2 separate regions of the Homo sapiens genome follow, and region 2 is linked to region 1. The links come from fine-mapping of genetic effects on gene expression. Tissue or cell type: whole blood. Region 1 holds a variant in brackets; the other region holds the start of a gene. All regions are shown on one strand. Distances are between the middles of the regions.

Region 1 (8,000 bases):
CCGCCGGTGCGAGGTAGGCGTCCTGAGAGGAAATTGGCAGACGAGATGAGTGAGGTCAGAGGACTTCATTGGTGGTTGACTAGGGGAGGGGACTTTTGATCAAAGGGGCTTTGTGAGGTGAGAATTCCGGGGGCAGGTTCAGTGAAGGGGTTTACGGTCGGAGACAGTTGTACTGGGGTCCCATGGGAAGAAGAGTCAGAGTTGGAGAAGGACAAGACGATGTAGGGGGCATGAGAGAGCAAGGGCTTTGGGATGAAGACCGCCTCAGTCAGGGGGTTTGCTGTTACGTGAACTAGAATAACAGGCATTGCCGTGTGTTCTGAGGATTGAGTAACACAATGAATATAGTTAGCACAGTGCCTGGCACATGGTAATATAATACTCTTCATGAGTTGCTGTCATCATCAGTATTAAGAGAGGAGGCAGAAGAAAAAAATGAGAAAGACTGGTGAGGGTAAGATCAGGAGGCATGGGAGAGAAAAGGTAGGCAATGAAGTGACATTACAACCTGGTATTGATGTTATTCCCAAGATGGAAGATAGTTTGAGTTCAAGGGAAGTAGATAAAAGAAGTCGCTAAGAGAGTCTTTTGGGGTTTTTTGTTTTTTTGAGATGGAGTCTCGCTCTGTCACCCAGGCTGGAGTGCTGTGGTGGGATCTCAGCTCACTGCAACCTCCACCTCCCAGGTTCAAGCAGTTCTTCAGCCTCAGCCTCCTGAGTAGCTAGAATTACAGGTGCCCACCACCACGCCCGGCTAATTTTTGTATTTTTAGTAGAGACAGGGTTTCACCATGTTGTCCAGGCTGGTCTTGAACTCCTGAACTCAGGTGATCCACCAGCCTCGGCCTCCCAAAGTGCTGGGATTACAGGCGTGAGCCACCACACCTGGCCCAGTTAAGAGAGTCTTAACTCTCTTAACTCTCTTGTCACAAGGAAAAGAGACCTTGTGACACTGAAATGACTCGGGGTGGTGGGGGAACAAGCCAGCCCTTTCCCTGAAGGAGGCCTCTAACCTCTCCTCTCAGGTCCTCAGCTATTAACTGGAGGAAACAGCTGCTTTTTCAGTGCTTCTCAGCTACTCTGTTTAGCTGAGAGATGAAGTAGGAAGATTTGGACTTCTCTTATTGAAAGGCCTAGAGAAGGTTTTGGTGTCCTTTTAAGATGTCACAGAAAATTTTTGTTTCAGGATTGTAGGGAGCAGATTCCTACTGTTCTTAAAGGACAGTAATGCCTTTTGAGTCTGGTCTGAAGAACATAACAGGTCTGTGATCAGAAGTAGGTTGCATCTCTCTCAACTTTAATTTCCTTAGCTATACCTGTAGGGATGACTTAAGCCTAGGGGAGCTCCTATATTTGGGAAGCTTGTGCACAGGGAAGCCTTAAATGATGGTGCCTGCAGATTGGATCTAGTAGAAATTAGGTCCTTGGGCATGGATGCTTGGGGAACCTCTCAGTGACCTCAGGTGAACTTGTTGCTCGTAGAGCCAAGAGGCGAAGTTAATTCAGGCCTTCCTTTTGACCACTGCCCCCTCTTCCTAGGCCTTGGCCCCTCCACCAGAGGAAGGTGCTGCCACGTGTCTGCTCCTTCTGAACCTCCAGGTTTCTGCTACGTTGCCCCATGGAGGACACACCCCCCTCACTCAGCTGCTCCGACTGTCAGCGCCACTTTCCCAGCCTCCCAGAGCTCTCTCGGCACCGAGAACTGCTCCATCCATCTCCCAACCAGGACAGTGAGGAGGCTGACAGCATCCCTCGGCCCTACCGTTGTCAGCAGTGTGGGCGGGGCTACCGTCACCCCGGGAGCCTGGTTAACCATCGTCGGACCCACGAGACTGGCCTTTTCCCCTGTACCACCTGTGGCAAGGACTTCTCCAATCCCATGGCTCTCAAGAGCCATATGAGGACACATGCTCCTGAGGGCCGCCGCAGGCACAGGCCCCCACGCCCCAAGGAAGCCACTCCACACCTCCAGGGTGAGACGGTGTCCACTGACTCCTGGGGCCAAAGGCTTGGCTCTAGTGAAGGCTGGGAAAACCAGACAAAACATACAGAAGAGACACCTGACTGTGAATCTGTACCTGACCCCAGGGCAGCTTCGGGTACGTGGGAAGATCTGCCCACCAGACAAAGAGAAGGCTTGGCAAGCCACCCAGGTCCTGAGGATGGTGCAGACGGCTGGGGACCCTCCACTAACTCTGCCAGAGCCCCTCCTCTCCCCATCCCAGCCAGCAGCCTTCTTAGCAACTTGGAACAGTATCTGGCTGAATCAGTAGTGAACTTCACAGGGGGCCAGGAGCCCACCCAGTCCCCTCCTGCTGAGGAGGAGCGGCGGTACAAATGTAGTCAGTGTGGCAAGACCTACAAGCACGCCGGGAGCCTCACCAACCACCGCCAGAGCCACACGCTGGGCATCTACCCCTGTGCCATCTGTTTCAAGGAGTTCTCTAACCTCATGGCTCTGAAGAACCACTCTCGACTGCATGCCCAGTATCGGCCTTACCACTGTCCCCACTGCCCCCGTGTCTTCCGGCTCCCCCGGGAGCTGCTGGAACACCAGCAGTCCCATGAGGGTGAAAGGCAGGAGCCACGCTGGGAGGAGAAAGGGATGCCCACCACCAATGGGCACACAGATGAGAGCAGCCAGGACCAGCTCCCCAGTGCACAGATGCTGAATGGCTCTGCGGAGCTCAGCACCTCTGGGGAGCTGGAGGACAGTGGCCTGGAGGAATACCGGCCTTTCCGCTGTGGGGACTGTGGCCGTACTTACCGCCATGCTGGGAGCCTCATCAACCATCGAAAGAGCCACCAGACAGGTGTCTACCCCTGCTCACTCTGTTCTAAGCAGCTGTTCAATGCGGCTGCCCTCAAAAACCATGTGCGGGCTCATCACAGGCCCAGGCAAGGAGTTGGGGAAAATGGGCAGCCATCAGTCCCACCAGCTCCCCTGCTGCTGGCTGAGACCACCCACAAAGAGGAAGAGGACCCCACCACCACCCTGGACCATCGGCCCTATAAGTGCAGTGAGTGTGGTCGTGCTTACCGCCACCGGGGGAGCCTGGTGAACCATCGCCACAGCCATCGGACTGGAGAGTACCAGTGCTCACTCTGTCCCCGCAAGTACCCCAATCTCATGGCCCTGCGCAACCACGTGCGGGTACATTGCAAGGCTGCTCGCCGAAGTGCAGACATCGGGGCTGAGGGTGCCCCCAGCCACCTCAAGGTAGAACTCCCGCCTGACCCAGTGGAGGCAGAGGCAGCCCCGCACACAGATCAGGACCATGTGTGCAAACATGAAGAAGAGGCCACGGACATC[A/G]CCCCAGCAGCAGACAAGACAGCAGCACATATCTGTAGCATCTGTGGGCTGCTCTTTGAAGACGCTGAGAGCCTTGAACGTCATGGCCTGACTCATGGGGCAGGGGAAAAGGAAAATAGCAGAACAGAGACCACAATGTCACCTCCTAGGGCCTTTGCCTGCCGAGACTGTGGAAAGAGCTATCGCCACTCAGGCAGCCTTATCAACCACAGGCAGACCCACCAGACAGGAGACTTCAGTTGTGGGGCCTGTGCCAAGCACTTCCACACCATGGCTGCCATGAAGAACCACTTGCGCCGGCACAGTCGGCGGCGGAGCAGGCGGCATCGGAAGCGGGCTGGCGGTGCCAGCGGTGGGAGAGAAGCCAAACTCCTGGCAGCGGAGAGCTGGACCCGGGAGCTAGAAGACAATGAAGGCCTGGAGTCTCCCCAAGACCCTTCAGGGGAAAGTCCTCATGGGGCTGAAGGCAACCTGGAAAGTGATGGGGACTGTTTGCAGGCTGAATCTGAAGGGGACAAATGTGGGCTTGAGAGGGATGAGACCCATTTCCAGGGTGATAAAGAGAGCGGAGGCACTGGGGAAGGACTGGAAAGGAAGGATGCCAGTTTACTTGACAACTTGGACATCCCAGGTGAGGAAGGTGGTGGCACTCACTTCTGCGATAGCCTCACTGGGGTGGATGAAGACCAGAAGCCAGCCACTGGCCAACCCAACTCCTCTTCCCACTCTGCCAATGCTGTCACTGGCTGGCAGGCTGGGGCCGCTCACACATGCTCTGACTGTGGGCATTCTTTCCCCCATGCCACTGGCCTGCTGAGCCACAGGCCCTGCCACCCACCAGGCATCTATCAGTGCTCCCTCTGCCCGAAGGAGTTTGACTCTCTGCCTGCCCTCCGCAGCCACTTCCAGAACCATAGGCCTGGGGAGGCGACCTCAGCACAGCCTTTCCTCTGCTGCCTCTGTGGCATGATCTTCCCTGGGCGGGCTGGCTACAGGCTTCACCGGCGCCAGGCCCACAGCTCCTCTGGCATGACTGAGGGCTCAGAGGAGGAGGGGGAAGAGGAAGGAGTGGCAGAGGCAGCCCCTGCACGCAGTCCACCACTGCAGCTCTCGGAAGCAGAGCTGCTGAATCAGCTGCAGCGGGAGGTGGAAGCGCTGGACAGTGCAGGGTATGGGCACATCTGTGGCTGCTGTGGTCAGACCTACGATGACCTGGGGAGCCTGGAGCGTCACCACCAAAGTCAGAGTTCTGGGACTACTGCAGACAAGGCTCCCAGCCCCTTGGGAGTGGCAGGTGATGCCATGGAGATGGTCGTGGACAGTGTCTTGGAGGACATAGTGAATTCTGTCTCTGGAGAGGGTGGAGATGCCAAGTCTCAAGAGGGAGCAGGCACCCCCTTGGGAGACAGCCTCTGCATCCAGGGTGGGGAAAGTTTGTTGGAGGCTCAGCCCCGCCCCTTCCGCTGCAACCAGTGTGGCAAGACCTATCGCCATGGGGGCAGCCTGGTGAACCACCGCAAGATCCACCAGACTGGAGACTTTCTCTGCCCTGTCTGCTCCCGCTGCTACCCCAACCTGGCTGCCTACCGTAATCATCTGCGGAACCACCCTCGCTGCAAAGGCTCTGAGCCCCAGGTTGGGCCCATCCCAGAGGCAGCAGGTAGCAGTGAGCTGCAGGTTGGGCCCATCCCAGAAGGAGGCAGCAACAAGCCCCAGCACATGGCAGAGGAGGGGCCGGGGCAAGCAGAAGTCGAGAAGCTCCAGGAAGAACTTAAAGTGGAGCCCCTGGAGGAAGTGGCCAGGGTGAAAGAAGAGGTGTGGGAGGAGACCACTGTGAAGGGGGAGGAGATAGAGCCCAGGCTGGAGACTGCCGAGAAGGGCTGCCAGACTGAAGCCAGCTCTGAGCGGCCCTTCAGCTGCGAGGTGTGTGGCCGATCCTACAAGCACGCCGGCAGCCTCATCAACCACCGGCAGAGCCACCAGACCGGCCACTTTGGCTGTCAGGCCTGCTCCAAGGGCTTCTCAAACCTCATGTCCCTCAAGAACCACCGGCGCATCCATGCAGATCCCCGACGTTTCCGCTGCAGCGAGTGTGGGAAGGCCTTCCGCCTGCGGAAACAGCTGGCCAGCCACCAGCGGGTCCACATGGAACGGCGTGGGGGTGGGGGCACCCGAAAGGCGACTCGGGAAGATCGGCCCTTCCGCTGTGGGCAGTGCGGGCGGACCTATCGCCACGCCGGCAGCCTCCTGAACCACCGGCGCAGCCACGAGACGGGCCAGTACAGCTGCCCCACCTGCCCCAAGACCTACTCCAACCGCATGGCCCTGAAGGACCACCAGAGGCTGCACTCAGAGAATCGGCGGCGACGGGCTGGACGGTCCAGGCGCACAGCTGTGCGTTGCGCCCTCTGTGGCCGCAGCTTCCCTGGCCGGGGATCTTTGGAGCGGCACCTGCGGGAGCATGAGGAGACAGAAAGGGAGCCAGCCAATGGCCAGGGAGGCCTGGATGGCACAGCGGCCAGTGAGGCGAACCTGACTGGCAGCCAGGGACTAGAGACCCAATTGGGTGGTGCTGAGCCAGTACCCCACTTGGAGGATGGAGTCCCAAGGCCAGGGGAGCGCAGTCAGAGCCCCATCAGGGCAGCAAGCTCAGAAGCCCCAGAGCCACTGTCCTGGGGTGCAGGGAAGGCAGGTGGGTGGCCGGTAGGTGGGGGACTGGGGAATCATAGTGGAGGCTGGGTTCCTCAGTTCCTAACTAGGTCAGAGGAGCCAGAGGACAGTGTCCACAGGAGTCCTTGCCACGCTGGTGACTGCCAGCTCAATGGACCTACTCTGAGTCACATGGATAGCTGGGACAACAGAGACAACAGCTCTCAGCTGCAGCCAGGGAGCCACTCCTCTTGCAGCCAGTGTGGCAAGACTTACTGCCAGTCAGGCAGCCTCTTGAACCACAACACCAACAAGACAGACCGACACTATTGCCTGCTCTGCTCCAAGGAGTTCTTAAATCCTGTGGCCACAAAGAGCCACAGCCACAACCACATAGACGCCCAGACCTTTGCCTGTCCTGACTGTGGCAAAGCCTTTGAGTCCCACCAGGAACTGGCCAGCCACCTGCAGGCTCATGCCCGGGGCCACAGCCAGGTGCCAGCCCAGATGGAGGAGGCCAGAGATCCCAAAGCCGGGACTGGGGAGGACCAGGTGGTTCTCCCTGGTCAAGGGAAAGCCCAGGAGGCCCCATCAGAAACCCCCAGAGGCCCAGGAGAGAGTGTGGAGAGAGCCAGGGGAGGACAAGCGGTGACGTCCATGGCGGCTGAGGACAAGGAGCGGCCCTTCCGCTGCACCCAGTGCGGGCGCTCCTACCGCCATGCTGGCAGCCTGCTGAACCACCAGAAGGCCCACACCACAGGGTTGTACCCGTGCTCCCTCTGTCCCAAACTTCTCCCTAACCTGCTGTCTCTTAAGAACCACAGCAGGACCCACACGGACCCCAAGCGCCACTGCTGCAGCATCTGTGGCAAGGCCTTTCGGACAGCTGCCCGGCTGGAGGGCCACGGGCGGGTCCATGCACCCCGGGAGGGGCCTTTCACCTGCCCCCATTGTCCCCGCCACTTCCGCCGCCGAATCAGCTTCGTGCAGCACCAGCAGCAGCACCAGGAGGAGTGGACGGTGGCCGGCTCCGGTAGGGGGCATGAAGGGTCCCAGGAGGAGGTGGGCACACAGTGGAGGGGGAAGTCCAGCCCCAAAGTCGGTGGGGGAGCAAGGAGTGAGAGGAGAGAGCCCCGGGGATTCTAAGAGGTGGGTGGGGGCTTGGCTATGGGGTGAGAGAAGTAGCTTGAGGATGTGCTGAGCTGAGCACCCGCAAGTCAGGTATAACAAATAGCAGGGTGGGTTGGGCAGCACGTGGGGGCGTGGTCAGGCCGAGGCTGCTACCTGGGCTCCTCCATTACACTGTAGCCAGAATGGAATGGTCTTTCTGTTCAGGGGAAGGTCACTGGGTACCCCCTGGCTGCTGTGTCTGGAAACCCTCCTGAGTCAGCCAGTAAAGTAATGACTTCCAGAGAAAAAGAGGAAGCCATTGGTTTGGTCTAGGTTCCATTCTTTCCTGGAGCAGGCCGGGTGCCAGGGAACAAGGGATGGGGCATGGGCTCCACGGCTTCCCTGCTGACTTGGCCACGGAAACTGGTTCACTGGTTGGCACCCTACTCCCTGTCCCTCTTTCCCTGCGCCTTGTCTCTGCTGCTCCTCTCCTTGGAAACTAGACCTCTGGTCCTTCCCTGTCAGTGTTGCTCCCATCTCTTCTCTAACCTTTATTCAGCCCCTTTTCCCTCTGCTGCCAACGGCCTTTTTAGGATCCAACCAAACCACCCTTTCTACCTGCGCACCCTGCCACCCTCTGCACACCTTTAACTGGAGGACTGAGTCACAGATAATTGTTTCCTTGAAGTCCAGGCCCAGCTGCAGCAACAACAGTCATTAGCCCGTGTCACATCCCTGATCAGAGGGCATCTCCGTGGGGAATCGCCTCCACCCAGCACTGCTGGAAGCCGCAGCTGCCAGGGAGTGGGGCGGCCGGTTCCCTCAGCAGGACCTGGGCTGGCCTCTCCACCTCCCCTAGTAGAGGCGGACCCATTCCATCTAGTGGCCACCGAGGGTGGGTGGCCCTGAGATGGTGGGCCCTTGACAGG
Region 2 (8,000 bases), 130 kb before region 1:
GGATAGGCTGGTGCCTGGGAGGCAGACAACACTGTGGTAAGAGTTCAGATTCAGCATCACCAGGCCTGGGTTTCCTGGCTGTAAACAGGAATGATGATCAGAGATCTTGTCTCCCAAGGCTGTGGTTCTTAAAGTGTGGTCGGGGGACCAGCAGCATCCACAAAACTGGAGAACTTGTTAAAAAAGTAAACTCTGGGCCGGGCATGGTGGCTCACACCTGTAATCCTAGCACTTTGGGAGGCCGAGGTGGGCAGATCACTTGAGGTCAGGAGTTTGAGACCAGCCTGGCCAACATGGTGAAACCCCATCTCTACTAAAAAAATACAAAAAATTAGCCAGGCGTGGTGGCAAATGCTTTTAATCCCAACTACTTGGGAGGCTGTGGCAAGGAGATTGCTTGAACCTGGGAGGTGGAAGTTGCAGTGAGCCGAGATTGCACCACTGTACTCCATCCTGGGTTACAGAGTGAGACTCCATCTCAAAAAAAAAAAAAAAAAAGTAAACTCTGGTCAGGTGCGGTGGCTCAGGCCTGTAATCCCAGCACTTTGGGAGGCCAAAGTGGGAGGATCAAGGCTACAGTGAGCTACAGGGAGGTTGAGGCTGCAGTAAGCTGTGATTGTACCACTGCACTCCAGCCTGGGTGACAGAGCAAGACTCCGTCTCGGGGAAAAAAAAAAAAAAAAAAAAAAAAGGAAAACGTATGTATGTCAGAAAAATGCATATAATATGTCAAATGGTGAGAAAAAGAGGAAAAAATGATGCAAGGAAGTGGTAGGAGTGTGGAGAATTACATTAGTTTTTGCATTGCTATAAAGAAATACCTTCGGCTGGGTAATTTATAAAGAAAAGAGGTTGAATTGGCTCAGGATTCTGCAAGCTGTACAGGAAGTATCGTGCCTGCGTCTGCTCAGCTTCTGGGGAAGCCTCACGTAGCTTTTACTCTTGATGGAACGTGAAGGAATCGGCATGTCACATGGCAAGACAGCAAGAGAGAGGAGGGGAGGTCACAGACTCTTTTATTTATTTATTTATTTATTTTGAGATGGAGTCTCGCTCTGTTGCCCAGGCTGGGGTGCAGTGGCACAATCGTGGCTCACTGCAACCTCCACCTCTCGGGTTCAAGTGATTCTCCTGCCTCAGCCTCCTGAGTAGCCGGGATTACAGGCGCCTGCCACCATACCCGGCTAATTTTTGTATGTTGAGTAGAGACAAGGTTTTGCCATGTTAGGCCAGGCTAGTCTCGAACTCCTGACCTCAAGTGAGCCGCCTGCCTCGGCTTCCCAAAGTGCTAGGATTACAGGCATGAGCCACCACGCCTGGCAGAATATTGTAGTCTCAAATACAATAATCATGGAAGGCCTCCGAGGAGGTGATGTGAGGAGTGGACAGATGAGGTCAGGCCATGAGGGTGTTTTTGAGAAGAGCAAGCCACAGAGTGCACCAGGTCACTCACTTATGTGGGAAGCAGGTGGAGGGCAGATGGTCTGGATACCTGGGCGCAGGGATGGGAGTGGCCAGGAGTGCTGACCTCTCATCTGGCTGCCCAGGGCAAACAGAGAGCCGTGGTCGGCTGCAGGGGGTGGCAGAACTGCGTCTGGCAGGTTTGGAGCTGACAGATGCCTCCCTGCGTCTCCTGCTGCGTCACGCACCCCAGCTGAGCGCCCTGGACCTGAGCCACTGCGCCCACGTCGGGGACCCCAGTGTTCACCTCCTCACGGCCCCCACGTCCCCACTCCGCGAGACCCTGGTGCACCTCAATCTTGCTGGTAAGCACGGTCCCCCATCCGTCCTGCCAGCCTGTGGATCCCCACGGCCAGTGCCAACCCCTTGCTCACCTGCCTGGTCTCAGCTCCACTGCCCCATCCCCAGGTTGCCACCGCCTAACGGACCACTGCCTCCCGCTGTTCCGCCGCTGCCCTCGTCTACGCCGCCTAGACCTGCGCTCCTGCCGCCAGCTCTCACCCGAAGCTTGTGCCCGGCTGGCAGCTGCCGGGCCCCCTGGCCCCTTCCGCTGCCCTGAGGAGAAGCTGCTTCTCAAGGACAGCTAGTTGGGCGCCCCCCACCCTCCCCCGGACTCGACAGGAGCCTGGACCTCCGGCTTCATTTCACCCCTGCTGGGAGGCCAGGTTCCCACCTCACCACCCTGGGATTCCTGAGTGTCAGTGACTTGGGATTCCCACCCAGGGACTCAAGCCAGCCACCCCCTTCTTTCCCCCCTGCACTGATATCTCTGGGGGTTTCTCCTTCCTATGTCCTGCCCCTGCTACCTGCTTCATTGTCCATCCCCTGGGGGAGTGGGTCAGAGGTACTGGAGGGTGCTGAGCCGAAGGGACGGTGGGAGGGGGGTTATGGTGCAAGTGTTGGGGGGGAGAATGGGGAAAGGACACACACAGGATATGGGAGCCAGGGGCTGGGGGAGGTGGAAGGGGCGGGGGGCGGGGCAGACAGCAGACCACCAAGGGTTCAGGGAACAAAGACCAGTTACTTGGAGTGGGGGGTGGGGGTGGGGCCACAAAAGGAAAACCGGAGGAGCAATTGGGGATCCAGGTGTCAGAGGTAGGGGAACCAGGGGCAAGCTGGGGCTGAGCTGGAGGTGGGGATGAGAGCAGGTGTGGGGACAGCAATACCCCCTTGGGGGTCACCTCTCTGCTTCCCCCCTCCCCAGGCTTCAGTTCCTTCCCCCTGACCCTGACTCCTTGAACGTCACTGAAAACGGCAGCTATTGCAAGGAGTGGGGGCCGCGGGCAGCCGCTCTTCAGCTCGCGGCCCAGGGGAGTGGCGAGGGGCGCCCCAACCCCCTGCCCGCCTCTCCGCACAATACTTGAACATTCATCTGTACTGAAGTGTTACTTGAACCGGGGGAATCTCGGACCTGGGGGAGCCGGGGTGTGAGGGGACTGGACCAGCTTGGACTGAGACCTGAGACCGGGCCGGTGGGCGCCCATTTGGGACTGCGCCACCCCCAGGCTTGTTCTTGTTTTACTGTATTGAGCGGCGGCACCCGCCGGACCCGCATTATGGCTGGGGGCGCCAGCCCAAGAATGGGGACCATGGGACTCCTCCAGCCTGGCTCTTCCCACTCTTTCATCGTCATGGAAACTTGTATCCCATTTGCCCAGGGAACTGCCACTCCTGGTTGCCATGGAAATAGCAGCCAACGGACACCTCCCGATGCCAGTGCTAAGGCTGGAAATGGCCCCCTCTTAGTTGCCATGGGAACCTAGTAACAGACTCTGCTGGCCCTCCTTCCCTGCCCCTTCCTCGAGCGCGGGGTGGGGCTTCGGGACCCCGGGGATGAGCCGGGCCAGGTCCCGCCCCTCCGCGCAGGCCTCCGGGGGGCCGGGGCTTACCATGTAGGGGAGGGGAGATCTATCCACATACCTCAGGTAACAGGGAGGTGCGCGGGTGGGGGGAGGGCTGGGCGGACCAAAGGCCGGAGGGGTGGGGCCTGGGGATAGCGAGAGGCTTGAGAATGGGGCCGCTTGGGGGAGGGAAGAGGCAGCCCGGCGAGGGGCAAGCGGGGGACCCAGCCGGGCTGGGCCCCTGGGCCCCGGGTCTGTACAATACGGTTTGCTATAAAACTCAAAATCTTCCAGCCGGGGCTGCGGAGTTCGTGTGTGTATCTGCGGGGTCCCTACCTACAGATGAGTGGGCTCACCTCTCCTGGACTCATTTTGGGAGGGATTTGGAAGTGTGGACACCTGGGGTGTCCAGCTGTACCTTGGAGGGGGCTGGGGTTGGCGTGCACCTCGGTGGGGTCCGGGCGCTTGGATAACGTTCTTGGTGGGTAGGGGTCGCGGGGAATCTCTGCGGGCCCGGGACTGCGGGGACTTGGTCCCCGGCTCCACCCCATCATGTGGCTAGCCCCGGCTCCGCCTCTGTCCCAGTTCCTGTTTTGGCCTCCGCTGTCCCGCTCCGGCTCCTGGGGCTCCCCGCAGACGCTGCTTTTCTTGCTCCACTGGGGGTGCCTCTTCCTGGGCGCCCGCCGCCTGCATCCTGCTCGTCCTGTCTGGGAATGGGGCCGCCCCCGGGCTTGGGCCGGCCCGGCTGGGGCCCCCGAGGCGCTTCCGCCCCGTAGTGACCGCCTGGTGCCGCCCCCCCCCCAGGATGAAGGGCGGCGAGGGGGACGCGGGCGAGCAGGCCCCGCTGAACCCTGAGGGCGAGAGCCCTGCAGGCTCGGCCACGTACCGGGAGTTCGTGCACCGCGGCTACCTGGACCTCATGGGGGCCAGTCAGCACTCGCTGCGGGCGCTCAGCTGGCGCCGCCTCTACCTCAGCCGGGCCAAGCTCAAAGCTTCCAGCCGCACGTCTGCCTTGCTCTCGGGCTTCGCCATGGTGAGGGGCCGGGAGGGGTCACACCCGGTGGGGCAGAGCAAGTGGGGGGCACAGGTCGGGGGGGGGGCGAAGTAAACAGGTCCCAAGGGAGACAGGTTAAAGGGGGCTTTCGTCAAAGGGGGAAGGAACAAGGTCCCGCGGGACTGAGCAAGTCCCTTCTTACGGATGTGTGTGTACAGGGGACCCCAGGAGACGGGGCCACCGGAGGACACGAAAGTCCTAAAGGTGTCGTAGTGGGAGTGGGGTGAACAAATCGCTGGTGGGGTTGACTGCAACAGTGAGGCAGAGTGGTCCAGATGGAGCCTGTACCTGGCAGAAGTGGTTCCTAAGTCCCAGTGCCAGCTTCAAAGGCAGGTCAGCTGGGTGGGGGCTGCATCAACAGGTGGGGGGCTCGAGATGGATTAGCTGGGTGGAAGGGTCACCCAGCTGAAGGTGGGCCCGTCCCAGGGAAGGTGGCCACTCTCCAGCGGGCCCAAGGGGTGCTAGTGTCAACCAGGAAAACTGACAAGAGATCATGCCCGGGAGGGAACCGCTGGGGAAGGAGGCTGATGAGGAAACTGATAAGCGAGTCTCAAGCTGATAAACCCCAGGTGCAGGAGGACGGTGTTGGCTAACGGTCTGCCCCAGCAGTGGCCTCACAGGAAGTGGGATGGAGGGAGGTCCCAGGGTGAGGATCAGCAGACACAGTCCTGGCTCCTCCCTGCTTGTGGCCAGCTGTGTGACCCTGGACAGGCCTCCACCCCGCTTGCAAGCCAGTGGGAAACTGAGATCATGGAGGGTGCGCCCTCTGTAGCCAGCCAAGTAACCGCCCCAGGGTGAGCCAGGCATGTCAGAGCAGGTCACGTACCAAGGATGGCTCAGACTAGCCTGCTAATTGGACAGGTGTGGAAAGTAAAAGCCTTGCCTCTGGGCAGGAGCGAATGAACTGGGACCCAGGGTTGCTGCTCTGTTAGTCTGGGGTTGCCCCACCATCACCCCAGGAAAAAGGAGAAAGTGAGCTGCAGGAGGTACTTTGGGGAACGCACTCCTGTGGGGGTGGATATCAGAGGCGGTTGGGGTGGGGACCATGGCGCTAGGGGATCTGGGCTAGTCCCTGCCCTGTCTGTGCCACAACCTCCATATTTGAACAATGACAGGGAAACTCTCTAACCCTAAGGGTCATCATAAGCCTATGGTCTTCTATGTGGGGTCCCAGAATCCACAGACCAGCTTACCTTTCATGATGGGGGCATCACCTAGGGACAGGATGTTGGCTCCCCTTCATCTGCACAGCCTGCAGAGGGAAGGGAGCAGCCACCCAAGCTGAGGGAGGTCAACCCCATGGTCCAGCCTGTTCCCAAGGAGACAATCCCTCCACGGCAGAATATGCAGGTGCAGGTTGCTGGGGTGACAGCTTAAGGGCCCGAGCCTTCTCTGCAGGAGGAAGGGGCTGGAGGTTTAGGTTCCGGGGGCAGGACTGGCCGCAGTCCTAGCAGGGGTGACCGAGGCTGGGCCAGGCTCTGGGAGAAACCAGGACTAAGCCTGGCCCAGATCCCTGTCTGTGGAAAACACCTCCTGACACCTGCCATGGCCCAATTTCCCAAAATACTCAGCCCTGTTTTCCTACCTCCACCCGCCAGCCTCTACACCTACCTTCTTCTTTCCCCAGGCCCAGAGCAATCGAATGGACCCTACAAGAACCAGGGATGGGGAGAGAGTGGGCTTCTGAAACTCAGGTGGCCTAAGTTAGAATAGCATTATACAAATTGTATCCAGCTGTCACTAAGCACCAGGCACTGCCCTCAGTGCCTTTATATACATCATCTGTTAGCCTACAAAGTGGGTACTGCTACTCTGGCCATTTTACAGATGAGGAAACTGAGGATCAGAGATGTTAAGACACCTGCCCAAGGTCCCACAGCAAGTAAGTGGCAGGATTTGAGCCTAAGCCGTCTGGTTCCAGACTCCAAATTTATAAATTCCTAGAATAGGGTCATCAACTCAAATGTTTGCAAAGGGCCAGGCAGGTAATATGGATGCCAAATTGGCTGGGTAGGGACTAGCAAGCAAGAGACCCCATGACATTGGGGGTGATGGCTCACACCTTTCATCCCAGCACTTTGGGAGGCCAAGGCAGGAGGATCGCTTGAGCCTAGGAGCCCAGGAGTTCGAGTCCAGCCAGCCTGGGCAACATAGCAAGACCTGGCATCTACCAAAAAAAAAAAAAGAGAGACCCCATGACCTTTCCAAGGGGAGCAGCCATGACTGATTTGAGCTGATAGTTGCCATGCAGGAACGCAGGCCAAGTGTGGCTAGTTCTTCCAAGTTTTCAAGGGGATCTGGAAATAGGGATATAAGAAATCTCTTCAGTTTTACAAGTTGGCAGCATCTTCCATTTTTTAAGAAACACACTGTGTGAGCCAAGCAAAACACGTCTGCAAGCTGGCAGTGGTCCACAGTGTGCCGATTTGTAAACTCTGTCCTCAGACTTTAGCATTCACTATAGCAAGAACAGCAAACACATACCTAGTGCTTACTCTGTGCCTGGCACTGTTCTTTTTCTTTTTCTTCCTTTTCCTTTTCCTTTCCTTTCCTCTTTCTTTTTCTTTCTTTCTTTTCTTTCTTATCTTTCTTTTTTTTTTTTTTTTGAGACAGAGTCCCACACTGTCACCCAGGCTGGAGTGCAGTGGTGCGATCTCGGCTCACTGCAACCTCTGCCTCCTGGGTTCAAGCAATTCTCCTGCCTTAGCCTCCCAAGCTCCTGAGTAGCCGGGATTACAGGCGCACACCACCACGCCCGGCTAATTTTTATATTTTTAGTAGAGACAGGGTTTCACCATGTTGGCCAGGCTGGTCTTGAACTCCTGACCTCAGGTGATCCGCCCAACTCGGCCTCCCAAAGTGTTGGGATGAAAGGCGTGAGCCACCACTCCCAGCCCATTTCATGTATATTTCATTTAATGTTTATACCAACCCTATAAGGCAGGGAGGTGCTGTTATCAATCTCTATTTCCAGATAGGAAATTGAGGCACACAGAGAACTGACTTGCTCAAGATTACACAGCTAGAGCAGAGAATGATCCCAGGCAGCCCAGCTCCAGAATCTGCTGTTTGATCCCTATGCAGTAAACCTGTTAGAAGCATGTCATCCAGCCCTTTTTTTTATTTTTATTTTTAATTTTTTTTTGAGACAGAGTCTTGCTCTGTTGCCCAGGCTGGAGTGCAGTCACATGATCTCGGCTCACTCAAACTTCTGCCTCCTGGGTTCAAGCAGTTCTCCTGCCTCAGCCTCTCAAGTAGCAGGGATTACAGGCATGTGCCACGATGCCCGGCTAATTTTTGTACTTTTAGTAGAGACGGGGTTTCGCCATGTTGGCCAGGTTGGTCTCAAACTCCTGACCTCAGGTGATCCACACACTTTGGCCTCCCAAAGTGCTGGGATTATAGGCATGAACCGCCGCGCCCGGCCATCCAGCCCTCTTGATAGGGAGGTGGGGAAACCAGAACAGAACAGAGCCTTTGCAAAGCTGTCCATTCGTTTACTCAACAGAGACTGAATGTCTCTGGTTTCTGCCAGGCACAGTTCTAGGTCCTAGGGATATGTATCAGTGATGTATCCCGATAGGCGGAAAAAATCTCTACAGTTGAGGTTATGGGGAGATCAGTACATCCCCTCTTGTCCCTGC

What was found. PIP is the estimated chance that this variant, and not a neighbour inherited with it, causes the effect.
Region 2: ORAI3 starts here. The variant in region 1 is fine-mapped to the expression of ORAI3 in whole blood (TOPMed, PIP 0.99).

Annotation. Positions count from the first base shown.
Region 1 is chr16:31,074,708-31,082,707 of GRCh38, forward strand. ZNF646 (zinc finger protein 646) reads left to right here. Exons shown (of 3, transcript NM_014699.4): 2 at 1,539-6,994. The coding sequence starts at 1,618. Among named protein-coding and RNA genes, the nearest start is that of ZNF646, 4.3 kb to the left of the region's middle. RefSeq lists an enhancer at 1-481. The variant A/G (reference allele first, on the strand shown) is at 3,313.
Region 2 is chr16:30,945,183-30,953,182 of GRCh38, forward strand. It overlaps ORAI3 (ORAI calcium release-activated calcium modulator 3), which reads left to right and starts at 3,886. Exons shown (of 2, transcript NM_152288.3): 1 at 3,886-4,335. The coding sequence starts at 4,108. It overlaps FBXL19 (F-box and leucine rich repeat protein 19), which reads left to right. Exons shown (of 11, transcript NM_001382779.1): 10 at 1,548-1,766; 11 at 1,870-3,601. The coding sequence ends at 2,048. RefSeq lists silencers at 3,312-3,561, 3,932-4,191, 4,232-4,281 and enhancers at 4,205-4,723, 5,012-5,241, 5,242-5,759, 7,819-8,000.